Linked DNA regions of Homo sapiens. The protein of the gene in region 4 interacts with the protein of the main gene of each other region in a pairwise test. Each region holds a gene or a part of one and is shown on either strand. Other genes may lie near its edges. The genes, in order: MYOT, MYPN, MYOZ2 and PDLIM3.

The links.
Region 1: the proteins of PDLIM3 (region 4) and MYOT interact in a two-hybrid assay, tested with the Homo sapiens proteins (one large-scale study listed by BioGRID and IntAct).
Region 2: the proteins of PDLIM3 (region 4) and MYPN interact in a two-hybrid assay, tested with the Homo sapiens proteins (one large-scale study listed by BioGRID and IntAct).
Region 3: the proteins of PDLIM3 (region 4) and MYOZ2 interact in a two-hybrid assay, tested with the Homo sapiens proteins (one large-scale study listed by BioGRID and IntAct).

The regions. Positions count from the first base shown.
Region 1 is NC_000005.10:137,874,232-137,878,154, reverse strand, and holds part of MYOT (myotilin), read right to left. Parts: intron 2,327-3,923; coding exon 2,152-2,326; intron 636-2,151; coding exon 534-635; intron 1-533. UniProt on the Homo sapiens protein: Component of a complex of multiple actin cross-linking proteins. Involved in the control of myofibril assembly and stability at the Z lines in muscle cells.
Region 2 is NC_000010.11:68,122,988-68,126,487, forward strand, and holds part of MYPN (myopalladin), read left to right. Parts: intron 1-3,500. UniProt on the Homo sapiens protein: Component of the sarcomere that tethers together nebulin (skeletal muscle) and nebulette (cardiac muscle) to alpha-actinin, at the Z lines.
Region 3 is NC_000004.12:119,180,573-119,184,495, reverse strand, and holds part of MYOZ2 (myozenin-2), read right to left. Parts: intron 1-3,923.
Region 4 is NC_000004.12:185,521,771-185,525,693, reverse strand, and holds part of PDLIM3 (PDZ and LIM domain protein 3), read left to right. Parts: intron 1-522; coding exon 523-674; intron 675-2,247; coding exon 2,248-2,332; intron 2,333-3,923. UniProt on the Homo sapiens protein: May play a role in the organization of actin filament arrays within muscle cells.

The DNA.
Region 1 (3,923 bases), on a different chromosome or scaffold from region 4:
TACATTTGTTAATCTTAGAACAATTACTCATGAGGGGTTTTTTTTGGTTTTCAGAAAGCATTTTTTGAAAACAGGAATATAACAAAAGGAATTGGATGTTTCATTAGTACCACAAGTATATTTTAAAACATTGAAATGTTAAACAGCTTATGAGAAAGGTTATAATTACTTTCATTTATAATCTTAATTTCTGTCCTATTGGAGGTTCACAACCCATATATTCCCTGTCCGTGTAGACACCATAGAGAGTCCTAGGTCTAACTGACCCATAAATGTCCTGATAAAAAATAATACCATTAGACTTCTTGTGTTTTGATTTTGTGACGTTGTGTATCCAGGTATTAGAACTACCAGAAAATGGGGTAAAATGTGGTAAAATTATGTATATATGTTTATCATGGCCTCTTTATGTATCCAGTGGTGGATGGAACTGACCGACTTTTATTTCAGATGCTATTTATAAGCATTTAGAAAAGCAGACATTTAAAAATCGCACAGAATAAAAATACTCCACTTAGAGCATTTTAACTTACCTGCGAGTCTTGTGCACCACTGTCATCCTGAGCTTGAAACACAGCAGCTGCATTCTGTGGTCCTAGCAATCTGCGAGCCATCTTCTCTTCATATGTTAGACGCTTTAGAGAATTTATTGAGACAGTAATTAGATTTAATAAAAGATGTTTGTACAGGTTTACCTTAAAACCACTACTATAGGTCAGAACTTCAAAGAAGCATAGTTCTATCTATTGAATGATAGATTCTATTTTTTTTTTTTTTTTTTTTTTTTGAGACGGAGTCTTACTCCGTCGCCCAGGCTGGAGTGCAGTGGCACAATCTCGGCTCACTGCAACCTCCGCCTCCTGGGTTCACGCCATTCTCCTGCCTCAGCCTCCTGAGTAGCTGGGACTACAGGCGCCTGCCACAATGCCCAGCTAATTTTTTGTATTTTTAGTAGAGACGGGGTTTCACTGTGTCAGCCAGGATGGTCTTGATCTCCTGACCTTGTGATCCACCCGCCTCGGCCTCCCCAAGTGCTGGGATTATAGGCGTGAGCCACTGCGCTCGGCTGATTCTATTTTTTTTTTTTTAAAGTCTTTTCTTCCATTCAAAGCATTTTCCTTCTATTCTAGTACCATTTCCCTCACTTGCAGTAAAGGTTCACTTAGGCTTTCTTTTTGCTCCTATGACAGGCAAGCATAATCACTCTTAAATAAGGATCTCCTAAGTAAAGGGAAATTCAACCCTTTCCTCCGTTGTTCTGCATGTTCCAGTCAGCTTTGTTTTTGAATATAATACTTCATGTGCTCACATTCAGAAGTAATTTTTATTTAATTTTAATTAATTAATTTTTGAGACAGAGTCTCACTCTGTCGCCCAGGCTGGAGTGCAGTGGCACGATCTTGGCTCATGGCGACCTACGCCTCCTGGGTTCAAGCAATTCTCCTTTCTCAGCCTCCTAAGTAGCTGGAACTACAGGTGCATGCCACCACACCTGGCTAATTTTTTATTTTTAGTAGAGATGGAGTTTCACCATATTGGTCTGGCTGTTCTCGAACTCCTAACCTTGGTGATCCACCTGCCTTGGCCTCCCAAAGTGCTGGGATTACAGACGTGAGCCACTGCACCCAGCCAGAAGTAACTTTTATTAAATGAGCACTGAATATTTGATTGTACTAACTTCTGATTGAGAGCAGTCCAACTGATAGGCTAAATGTATTTGTATTAAAGGCATATAGTACTGTTTAAAGATAAGTTACTAATATAATATACACAATAAGGACTACATGATAAGAATTATAGCAATAATTACCTGTCAGTGTTATACATCAAAGTACACTAAGTTGACTTGACAGTAATTCCTAATAGCTATTTGGGCATCAGACATATTTTATGAGAGGGTAATATTTAATAACAGAAAAATTTCATTAAACCATTCAGATACATTTTTCATTTGCTTCATTCTTTTACTACTGTAAACCAAGAGGTGATTTCATGCAGAGAGAAATGGAATAGGGCCCAAATATTCCTTCTTTTTAGATAATCTTATTCCTTGTTGATATATGGACCTAGATCTGTGAGCTAGAACTTCCTTATTAAAATTAGATTTTATAGTTTAATTGGCCTTTTGTACAAAATAGACATCTTGCCCACTTGATTTCCATTATGAAGAAGGGTGTCCTTGCATTTCAGCTTTCTTTCCAAATCTTGAATCAAAGCTTCTTTTGATCCTTGTATTTCATGATCAGGAGTTCTTGGTATGGGCTTAGCATTTGCAGTTTGGGATGGCTTTGCATTTATAGGTTGGCCAGCTGAGGACTGTTGATAGCTTTAAAAAGGAAAAAGAAAAGATTTTTAAAAAGAAGGTCTTGGCCTCATTTTGCAAATTACCTTTAGATATGTTGAGTTTACCACTTAGTACTACTAGTATTATTAAAAACAAATTGCCCTAATAACAGTCAAGAAATATTTTATAAGAATGGTTACTATCTTTTTTTTTTCCTTTTGGCAAATGGAAATTAAGTGTCAGGAGGAAGAATTTAGATTAGACATAAGGAGGATGTCCTTCCTTGAAGATATTCCCTAAGGAATGTGAGAGTAAGTCTAGTTAGTGGCAGCTTGAGAGCTCTTCCAATCTTATGAGTAATTTCTTTAATAAAATTTTTTTTTAGATTCTGGGAGTACATGTGCATGTTTGTTACATGGGTATATTGTATGATGCTGGGGTTTGGCCTTCTAATGATTCTGTCACCCAAGAGGTGAACATAGTACCTGATAGTTAGTTTTTGAACCCTTTTCCACCTCTTTCCCTGCTTTCGGGATCTCCAGTGTTTATTGTTTTCATCTTTGTGTTCATATGTACCCAATGTTTAGCTCCCACTTATAAATGAGAACATGCTCTATTTTATTTTCTGTTTCTGTGTTAGTTTGCTTAGGATAGTGGCCTCAAGCTGCATCCGTGTTGCTGCAAAGGACGTAATTTTGTTCTTTGTTATAGCTACGATGACCGAATTTCTTGTTTGATTTATGGGTAGATATTAAGTGGTGGTATTCTGGAGCTGGTTCATATGGGCTGATTTTTAGCATCTTTTCCCAGCTTCCTATGATTTCATGTTATAGTTTGAAATTGGTTGTGGTGGAAATATTTACACCAGGGAAATCGGTAAATATCACAAATAATGGCTCTTTTGTCCAGTGATTGTTAGACATTTACCAGCACACCACTGGCTTTTAGTGAATAATCTTTTGCTTTGAATGGAGTCTACACAGTCATTGACTTTCCTGTAATTTCCAATTCCTATTAATTTCATATTCTAGAAAATCCAAGTATGGCACTATATAACAGCAAATAACTTCTAAAGTAATGACAGTTTCTTCAATACTACTGAAGTGATTTTTAGAGAAAAAATGGGATGATTTGAGGAAGGAGAAAGAAATGTAAACTGGAAAAAAGCAAATAAAGTCTTTATTTCAAATTTTGATCCTAAATTTTTTCTATGATGTCCTTGCCCCTCCCGTATTTCCCTTGTTGATTCTGATAGAGGATAGGGTGGTATTTAGAGAGTCCTGTATTTTTAGATCTGTTAGGTAGCTTAAATGTATCACAGTGCTTTATTCAGTTTTTACCTAGTTTATCCATTCAGAGCCCTGCAGGGGCTAATCTTTATTTTTAATTTTTATTTATTTTTTTGAGATGGAGTCCCGCTCTGTTGCCCAGGCTGGAGTGCAGTGGCGCGATCTCGGCTCACTGCAACCTCTGCCTCCCGGGTTCAGGTGATTCTCCTGTCTCAGCCTCCCAAGTAGCTGGGATTACAGGCACCCGCCACCATGCTCAGCTAATTTTTGAATTTTTAGTAGAGACGGGGTTTTGCCATGTTGGCCAGGCTGGTCTCAAACTGCTGACCTCTGGTAATCTGCCTGCCTGG
Region 2 (3,500 bases), on a different chromosome or scaffold from region 4:
ATTATTTTTATTATACCAGGGATTTGAAACTCGGCGTGAATTCTACACTGACAGCATATTTCAATTTGGATGTTAAATTTTCCTAGGGAATACAACCTTCATTTTGGCCGGGCGCAGTGGCTCCAGCGTATAATCCCAGCACTTTGGGAGGCCGAGGCAGGCAGATCACTTGAGGTCAGGAGTTCAAGACCAGCCTGGCCAACAGGGCGAAACCCCATCTCTACTAAAAATACAAAAAAATTTAGCCGGGCGTGGTAACAGGCATCTGTAATGCCAACTATTCAGGTGGCTTAGGCAGAGAGAATTTCTTGAACTTGGGAGGCAGAGGTTGTAGTGAGCCGAGATCGCACCACTGCACTCCAGCCTGGGCTACAGAGCGGAGGCTCCATCTCAAAATGAGTAAATTAGGCCTGGCGCAGTGGCTCACGCCTGCAATCCCAGCACTTTGGGAGGCTGAGGCGGGCGGATCACGAGGTCAGGAGATCGAGACCATCCTGGCTAAAAAGGTGAAACCCGGTCTCTACTAAAAATACAAAAAAAAAAAAAAAATTAGCCAAGCATGGTGGCGGGCGCCTGTAGTCCCAGCTACTTGAGAGGCTGAGGCAGGAGACTGGCGTGAACCCGGGAGGCGGAACTTGCTGTAAGCCGAGCTTGCACCACTGCACTCCAGCCTGGGCGACAGAGCGAGACTCCTTCAATAAATAAATAAATAAATAAATAAATAAATAAATAAATAAGTATAATTAAAAATTCAGTTATTTAGTTGCACGAGCCACATTTCAAGTGCCCAGTAACTGCATGTGTCTAATGACTACAGTATTGGACAGCGCAGGGCTACAATTTATAGCCTAAAAAAGGTCTCTATGCAATGAATACCTGCAGTATTTTTTTAAACTTTAAAGAAACCCAAATAATAGCATAAAAACCTATAGAATTGGGCTGAGGCTAAAGTCAATTTAAAGATTCATTATACATGTATTAAATGTATTATACACTTTCCATGTCAGCTTCATGAAAGCTATGACTGATGGATAGAGAGGTTATTCATCTTTTATTTGCCTACCATGGTCAGCTTTTCTGTGAGGCAAATGCAGTGCAAGTTTCAGGACGCCTCACTTGACTAGGCTATACCTAATTTTGCATTCTAAGTTTATTTTACTTTTTAAAGGAGCCCTTCCACATTTATGAGCTTCAGGTCCCACAAAACCTGGAACCAGCGTTAGCCCCTAGGGTAACATGTCCTACTTTTGATTTTATAATGGAATAACATGTGAAAAATGTGGTTGAAGTGGATTACTTTTGTAGAGAATTCCTGGTATTTAGAGTCCTACAAGAGTTACTTTGTGTTTGTAACTACCTGATTATTACTAGAATATGATTTCATTACTATTTAACATTTATTCTCTGTATGTAAATAGGGCATCTGGGCATCATCTTTTTATTCCATAATATTCAATTATAGGACAATAGTAGTATTAATAATAGCATTTTTGTTTATATATAGGCATATTAATTCAAGGGATTCTGGCCCAAAGACATATTCATATATTGATTTTTGCTTTTCAAAGGCGACATAAGGCAATGCCAAATATTATTTCTACAGTGGCAGATACATTTGACTATTAGGTTATCCTGCTGACCTCCTTGAGGGCAGGGATTCTGTTGTTTTTACCTTTGTGTCTTGAGCACTGAGCACAGCTTTGGGCTCATGGTAGCCACTCAGAAATGTTGAATGAGCTAGTGGATAAAGAAACAGGAAAACAAGAAACTCAACTTAGATTTAAATCAGAAGTGAGACCGTTGGCCTAAGATGTAGCAAAGGGTTGGAACTGAAAAACACAGGGCGGTGTCTACTCTTCTGCTCTGAACGTGCCTGATGATACTCCCTGGGACTCTGGTTGGTAATGCTAGTGAGATGTCACTACAGCCCCATGACAGCTACTACTCAGCAGCATCTGGTCAGTCTAAGTAAGCTGGTGAGCACTCCAGTTGTGATATACACAAAACTTAGGTTAGTCCTGTCCAATCCATTAGTTTCTGGACATAGATTGATTAAAACAAAAATTAGACCAGATCATTCAGGTCTCATCCTACTCATTTTTCAACCATGACAATCTCAGATACAAGAATGAATTCAATGCACCACTAAGAAATGTCAATTAGGAAGACATTCCCCACAAAGCAAAGTAATCTGGTGGCCACTCAGAAACCATTTAATCAGCCAACTAAAAATTTGCAAATCTTCAAATTTAAAAGTGAAAGAAATGTACACAGTTTCCATGTAGCAATGCTAATTTTTCCTGGGAAGAATTTCTTTACTGACAGCAATCATGCCTGTATCCTAACCACTGGTTGGATGCTAGGAAATTAGTAGGTATATGCTAAATATTTTCTGAATGAGTTAGTACTTAATTTTATGACTGCAATTAGATTAAGAATAGAATTAGAATTGTCCGAGTAGACTATTAGCTGCCATTTTCCTAAGCACAGAATTTATATAACTCCAATCAGAAAGCAAATATGTATTTATTTAGTTAGTTTTTACTGTGTGTTCGGCACAGTGATCAATGCAATGACAGACACAATATAAATATGCATCCCTGCCTTCAAGGAGCTTGCAATACAGTTAAAGAAATAATCCTAATTTTTATAGTACAAACTTTAAGTAGTGTCAGGTGTCAGAGAAGGAGTGAAGGACTAGAAAAGTCAAAGAAGTCTTCAGAGATGTAGGAGGATTTTACTTGAACTTTGAATAGTGAAAATTTAGGTAGAAAGTTTCTTATTTACTCATTCAACAAATATCAATTGAGTTACTAAAGTGATTCACTGGGAGTACAAAACAATTGTGAGCTAGTGGAGGTCATAAATCTTGTTTTGAAACCAAATCTAAACTCTTCTGAGAGGGTGGCTCACAATCTAATAGCTAGGAATCAGGCAGACAGCAAACAAATCAATCACTGCAGTATTATGTAATAAGGGCTATGACAGGAGTCTGTAGAGGAGGCAGTGGTGGCTTAAAAGAGTATATGAGTTGCTTGGCCTGGAGTGCATGATAAAGGAAGTGTTAACACAGGAGGTAGAGGAGGCCAAGGGTAGAGGGGAAAGCAAGTGCAAAGCTCCCGAGGCAAGTGTTATCAGGGAACCATAAGTACTCATCTATGTCAAGAACATAGGGTAAAGGTAAGAAAGATTAGAGATAAGGTTGAAGAGGTAGGTGGAAGGAATGGGTCCTTTCAGGCCAGGTCACTTCAGCATGTTTATGGAAAGGCACAGACGCTCTAATTATAATAATATTTTTTATATAGCAGAGAGGACACTGACCAAACTGGAAAGGAGAGTAGAGTCAGATGACTTCGAAGAACCTTGAAAGCAAAGCAGAGTAGTTCAGACTTGGTTTCAAAACAAACTGGAAACCATTTAAGGTTATGTATAGGGAAGTAACAAGATGAAAGGGAGGATTTAAGGATAATTAATCTGCAAGAATAAGTCACACCTGGAAA
Region 3 (3,923 bases), about 66 Mb from region 4:
GGAAGACTTCTCTGAAGAGGCGACATTTAAACAGCCATCTGAAGGTCAGAAGTTAGACATGTACAGTATGGCTAAAGTACATCAGCACTTCCAGTAGACAGGATAGCTAATGCCAAGAACCCTAAGGCAGAAATAATGTTGGCGTGTTCAAGGAAACAAAGAAGGCTTATGTTCCTAGGCTAGCAGGTGAGGGTGGGGCAGAGGGAACAGGGGACAGAGAGGTAAACTTGTGTGGGACTTTTTCTAAATAAGGAATATGGATTTCCTTCTAAATGTGAAGGGCAACCATTGTAGGATGGTAAGCAGGAGATTATATAACCTAATTACATTTTATAAGGGTCATTCTGGCTGCTATTGCTGTGTGAACAGATTATAAGAAGACAACAGTGCCAGTGGTTCGCACCTGTAATCCCAGCACTTTGGGAGGAGAAGGTGGATGGATCACCTGAGGTCGGGAGTTCGAGACCAGCCTGACCAACATGGAGAAACCCATCTCTACTAAAAATACAAAAAATTAGCAGGGCATGGTGGCGCATGCCTGTAATCCCAGCTACTCAGGAGGCTGAGGCAGGAGAATCCCTTGAACCCAGGAGGTGGAGGTTTCAGTGAGCCGAGATCGTGCCATTGTACTCCAGCCTGGACAATAAGAGGGAAACTCAGTCTCGGAAAAAAAAAAAAAAAGACAACAGTGGAAGGAGGGAAGCTATTGCAGTAACTCAAGCAAGAAATGATGACTTGTATTTCAGGTGTTTTATGTAAAGATGGAAAAAAGTGGGTGGGTCAGGATGTGCTTTACAGGTAGAGTCAACAGGATTTGCTGATAAATTGGATTAAAACCATGAAGAAAATAGAAAAATCAATGAAAACTCCTACCTTTAGAGTTTTAGCAACTGGCTGGTGGAAGACAGAAAAGAACAGAGTTGGTGTGTGGGTGGAAAACACGATTAGACATCCCAGTGGAGAGGTCAATCATGCAGGTTTTGCCCTATTCACTTTCACGCATCCTTTAACTGCTTGCTCTTTGCATTTATGCTCTCCTACCTCACTGCCTCTAATCATACTCTTTTTTTTTTCTCTCTCTGCTTGGAGTACTCTGATATTTACAACTGCGTTTCTAAATCCCCTTTAAGCCCTAATTCATACTTAACTTTCTTCTTGAAGCTTTCCCAATTTCCCACAGCCAGAAGTAAGCTTTCCACTCCGAAGTTTCCATGACTTCTATTTTCACCTCCCCTGCGATCCTATTTTATATCTTTCATTATATCCATTTGTATGTCTGCCTTTTTTCTTACCAGACTGTACTCTAAGAAGATTGGAATTCTCTCTGATGTATCTTTGTAATTCGTTACAATATACTTATATAATGCATTGTACCATAGGACCTGGCAAGACTATATAGATTCTCTAATATTGTGATTATTTAAAACCTGGAAGAGATCTTATTTTCTTTATAGTTCAATCACTCTGCTATCTTTCTTGACTACCTTAATTTCTGTGTGTTTTTTTATTAAAGAATTAATTAAAACATAAATATGTATAGTCTGCTACAAATTTGATTCTATTACTTTCGTTTCAATTAAATTTTTCCCTCCCCAAACAGATTTTAGTCTGTAAAAAGGAAAGTCATATTCAATTTCATTTGTATATTCCCATTGCATCTGTTACAGCAAGGGTCCCCAACCCTCAGGCTGCAGACCAACCATCTATGGCCTGTTAGGAACCAGGTCACACAGCAGAAGGTGAGCGGAGGGTGAGTGAGCATTTCCACCTGAGCTCCACCTCCTGTCAGGTCATCAGGGGCATTAGATTCTCATAGGAGTGCAAACCCTCTTGTGAACTTTGCATGTGAGGGATCAAGGTTGCAGGCTCCTTACGAGAATCTAACTAATGCCTGATGATCTGAAGTGGAATAGTTTCATCCCGAAACCATCTCCCCCCACCCTGCCACCCCTACACCCCTTCCCCCATTCTTGGAAACATTGTCTTCCACGAAACTGGTCCCTGGTGCCAGAAAGGTTGGGGACCATTGTATTACAGTGTCATGCAACTTCCTTATTAGAAGTTGCCTTTTTGTGACTGATAACTACTCTGTCCTTCCTGAGGTACCATGATCCAGGTTGAGGATGCAGAAGGAGACTTAATTCACTAGAAAGGCCTGTGTAAGAAGCAATCAGACTGCTGGAAGTAGAGTAAAGCCAACTATACTTCAAGCATCAGGCATTACATCCTTTATCCAGCCAATTTGCTAGAAGCTAAATATGTTTGTTGCTGACAATAGTTACCATAGCCAGTGAGAACTGCAGGTGAACTGTGTCACATTTTGTTTCAAAATTATTTCAGTGGCATGAGAAATGTTTTCTGTTGCTTTTAACTTGCAATATAATTTGACACTTTCCTCTTTTAAGAAGTTTTTATTATGCACAGTGGAGAAAATAATCCCAAAAGCTTCTGAATACTGTATTAGGTTAGGTCAGAAGCCTAAAATTTGAAATTTTATAATGTTGATTTGAAAATTTACTATCAAACTTCTAAAACAATAAAGTCGTGTTTTATAATATTTACTAGATACTCTGTTCTTCAGTGTACTGTTTGAACTCTGCAATATTTACAGTTTTATAATAATACATTCCTAAAATTCAGTTTATATAAATTAAATCAGATTCCAAATTTGCTAAATTTATGTTCTTTTTTTCATGTATGTAACTTATAGTTGTTCATTCTTTTCTGTATGTATTAAATTCTGGGCTCTTGCCTGCAGAATGTTTAATACATATATACTCCTCAAGATAGCCTCCAAATTCCACCTCTTCAGTACTATGCCATAGTTTTTGTAGTAAGTTGATATGCCTCCATCACATATATTTTATCCATCTAAGGAAACCAAATGGCTATTTTGAGTAGCCACTATTTTCCAGGAATATGCTGGAAGCAAGTAAGTGGAAATGAAAGTCATGGTTTTTACTCTCAAAGAACTTGTAATCTACTGAGAAGACAATAAAATGTTATGTTATTTTTCATAAGAAAGGCATACTAAATTATGTAGAATAACTCTCCCAGAATGCACAGGGAGCAGACAATATGATGAAAAGTAAAATAAACTAGAGTCCAGATGAGGATATTCAAGCTTCCAGAGGAAGAAAACAGAGCATTATGATCACAATCATGAACCAAAGATATGGAAAACAACTCTCCTGAGTTGAAGGAAGAAGAGATTATAGAGGAAAAGGAGTTACCAAGTACTAGACAAAGTTAACAAGAAAAAATAAAAAGATGCTACCTGGACATTCCTTGTCAGAATTTTAATGTTTTTAATATAATGAGCCATACAGGGAGGGAAGCCAGAAGGAATGTATAAAAGGAATGAATATGAGGCTGTCCATAATCTTTTCCAAAACATTACATACCAAAAAAGAGTATTGAATAGGTGTTGTGGAGAAAAGACTGTGACCAGGTAATTATTCATGTACCAATGTAAAAAATATATATGTATTATAGATATGCATGGACTTATATTGGTGTTCCCTTCCTAAGAGAATTACTTGAAGACATATTCCAGATAACTTTTGGATAAATAACTCAAGTAGCATAATATAAAAAGTACTGGCAATAAGAATAAAGCCACTTTAAAAATGTGGTCATAGGCTGGGCACAATGGCTCATGCCTATAATCCCAGCACTTTGGGAGGCCGAGGCAAGCAGATCACCTGAGGTCAGCAGTTCGAAACCAGCCTGGCCAACATGGTGAAACCCCGTCTCTACTAAAAAAATACAAAAATTAGCTGGGTGTGGAGACAGGCGCCTGTAATCCCAGCTACTCAGGAGGCTGAGGCAAGAGAATCGCTTGAACCCAGGAAGCAGAGGTTGCAGTGAGCTGAAATCGCACCACCGCACTCCAGCATGGGTGACGAGCAAAATTCCATCTC
Region 4 (3,923 bases):
GTCCCTCCTCCAAATACCATCACATTGTGGTTAGGATTTCAACATTTGAGTTTTGGGGGGAGATAAAAAGTCCATTGCATGCCTCTTACGTGAATTTTAAAGATGATAAATAGTAAGGATTGCTATATTTGGATTGAAAGCAGTTTCAACCTGAATGTAAAAGATGCCTAAATATAGTAAAACTCTATTCCCAAATAGAGACTTCTGGGTGATGAAAAATAAAAAATAATTTTTTAAAACAAAAAAATGTATGATTCACACTGGGAATTATGTAAGATGTTTTAAAAGAGAGTAACAGATACAAGGATATGAAATGTGGTTAGTAAGAAACAAAATCATTCAGCAGGATGAGAAAATAGACCTAACTCAACTGACCAACTAAGAGTTATCTTTAGTTAGATTTACAGTCTTTCTGCCCAATTAAACATTTAAAATGTTACCAGGCTGAAACACAAATGTCAGGCACAAAACTCAAGATACTGCGGGATGTTGGTTTTTAAATAGTGCCATGATTTCTTCCAGATTACACCAGGAAGCAAGGCGGCAGCTGCCAACCTGTGTCCTGGAGATGTCATCCTGGCTATTGACGGCTTTGGGACAGAGTCCATGACTCATGCTGATGCGCAGGACAGGATTAAAGCAGCAGCTCACCAGCTGTGTCTCAAAATTGACAGGTGCTTCTTAACTAATGGTGCTTAAATCTGATCTGTTTTGCAGGAGAACCTGAACCAGAACTATAAATAACTTCATCCTCCCAGCAAGGAGGGCCACAGACCTAGTATTTTGGCTGACTTTTTATATATTAGCTACTTAATTCTTTACTAAAGTCAGTCAATCTAGCAGTTGTTGACAAATCATTTCTAAAAAGGATTCTCTGGAATGTTAGAATAATAAAAGAGGCTAAAAGAATTTGTTCCAGTAATAACCCGGTTAATTAACTATGAAAATAGAACTATTAGCCACATAAACACTGAACAACACAACTAGTTATATCACTGTTCTCAGTGTGGTAGAGAATGGAATGGAATGGAATGGAATGGAGAGATTCCCCTGAAATAATCTCTTGACTTGCCTGACTGTAATTATATTAAAACTGGTTGCTAATATCCTGTCTGCCATTGGCTGTTTTGTACAGAATTCAGCCCAGAAGAATGTTACAGGTGTGAGAGTGCATATGCACGTGGGCATGTGAAATACTGAGATGTTTCTGACCCCACCCCCCAAAAACACTAAGAAATTGAGCCTGATCTCTTGCCATCAGATCCCTGATCCAAAACTGAACCATGATAATAATAATTTGTTATAGTGGTTGTTAGTGTGTGTTTATCCTGTTATGATTGTACTCACAGTTTTCCGTGCTGTGGTACAGAAGGATCAATCAATCCACCAATCTGCCGTTTCCTTGGGGTGAAATAGATTCTTTCACTCTCTATGCATAACCTGTGTTCATGCCGAGCACACAGTCCCTTAGGAGCCACTAGGTCCCAGGCAGATGCATGAGAAGGGTTGGACAAAGCACATTTCCTTGATGCCAGTAACACATCCACCTGGCAGATCACTCACTGTCTTCTGCAGTGGCCTCAGTAGGACTGGAGGGAAGTAGGGAGGTCTAGGGAGCTTGCCTGGTGGTCATCTGCAGAGTGTGCCTGCAGAGTCTCCCTCTCCTGTTTCCCACATGCCTTGCAGGCCTCCTTCCTCCAGAAACTGTGCAGTGTACTCCAGGCAATTTTTATCTAGTCTGCCATACCCAAAAGGACATTAAAAATGTACGACTTCGGCCGGGTGTGGTGGCTCCCGCCTGTAATCCTAGCGCTTTGGGAGGCCGAACTGGGCGGATCACTTGAGGTCCAGAGTTCATGACCAGCCTGGCCAACTGGTGAAACCCCGTCTCTACTAAAAATACAAAAATTAGCCAGGCATGGTGGTGGGCACCTGTAATCCCAGCTACTCGGGAAGCTGAGGGAGGAGAATCGCTTGGACCCAGAAGGAGGAGGTTGCAGTGAGTCAAGATTTTGCCACTGCACTCCAGCCTGGTTGACAGAGGGAGACAACATTAAAAGAAAAAAAAAGGGGGGGGGAAGACTAATTATGTGGGAAAATACAGAATAATCAGCAAAAAAAAAAATTGTTTTTGCATAAGTTAGTGAGGTTTGCTAGTATTTTCACAAACATAATGGGAAACTAAAGTATGCTAAAACTGAAAGTACCATTAGAATTTGAAGTTTACAAATTTTATTTTATTTCCAGGGGAGAAACTCACTTATGGTCTCCACAAGTATCTGAAGATGGGAAAGCCCATCCTTTCAAAATCAACTTAGAATCAGAACCACAGGTATGCGTTTTAGAGCAAATGATACACATTGTATTTCCTTTTAAATCATGGGGATGCCTTCCAAGGGGAGGAAGAGACAAATAGAAAAATTGGAACAAGCCACCTATGAAGCTGTTGTCTGTCATTCCTCTCCGAGATTAATTTATATTATCCGTGTTTTCTTACATCAAGAAAAAGAAGTGTTCCTATGTGAACATCTTGTTGAAAGACAAAATATGCTCCCATCAGAAAGAATTTGGCTAAATCTACAGAGTCCACTTATTATTTTTTCATTTCTTATAATGGACTTCTGTGAAATGACCGTGAGGTAATCTAAGGAGTTTAAGTTGTTAAAACAAAGCAAAGCAAAAATAAGGTCTACCATTTGAAACAGGTGTCTCCAATCTACGGTTACTGTGAATTTCAGTCCTTCGAGGTCTTCACCCAGATCTCATTCTACATTCTTCTTTAATTCTCATTTCTGGGATTCTGTAATTAAATTTACTCTAAGAAAAGAGTGTTGCCTAGTGTGATGATGGTGATATTCTGCCGTTACAGCTGAATTATAAAAGATAAAGGATTTTCTCTGGAGGCAACTGTAATAAACTAAACTAATCATCTGATGCTTATCTATGTCTACTTTCAAAAGGCCCAAAAAACCTGAAATTAAATCAAATCTTGATTGTGATGTACTCATAAATCTAATTAAGAAAAGCATTTTATGACCTCTACATAGAAGCTCTAAAGGTTTAGAGATACAGATACATGAATTTACCATCCCTTTTGAAACACATGTTCCTGCTAAACTGATTAGATATTCCCAGCATGTAGTTGTTCTATATAACTGATGAAAGGGAACTGAAAACGTATTTGTAATTTATGTTTAGCAGTATTTCCCCTTTCAAGAAAATCAACTCCTGAATTTGTCCTTCAAGTTTTCTACTTGTCTCCATAAGCCTCTGATTTCTTTTGTGAAAAGATGTTGAATAACATCAGTACATGTGTCTCCTAGGGCTTCTCAAAAATTAGAATAAAATAATACAAGCAGAGAAGTTGGCACATTGAGTTATTCATAGAAATACTCAAGTAAGTGGTAGCTGTCCTTATTATCAGTACGTTACCCCCACCCCAGGCTGGGATCCGAAAGTCTCCTGGCGTTTCTTGCTGGTGAGATAGTTAGCTGCCTACATGATAGGACATCCTAGAGGCTAGGAATGCCTTCTTCATTGCTATTACGAGGGTCGTGACAAATGGAACAAAGCTTTATTTTCAGTTAAAATATAATCTCTCCTGGAGAAGAAGGATCCTGAGTAATGTAATCTTTAGAGGAAATGAGTTTATTAGATTGTTGTCGTAGAGTTTTGACTAAAGGGAAGGTAGAGTCTGAATCTAAAATCCACTAAAAGCAAAAGTAGGAGAAAATAAGCCCCAAAAGGAGTGAGCAGGACAGAGAATATGTTCATGAAGGCAGGAACCTTGAGGCTGTTGTCTTCCCTCTGAGTCCCTCCAGCTCAATAAATAGCCCACAGCTCAATAAATAGCTGACAAATGGATGAAAGGAACTGGAGGGCCTAAAAATGAGCTGTGCATTTTCTAACATTGCCAGGACCTG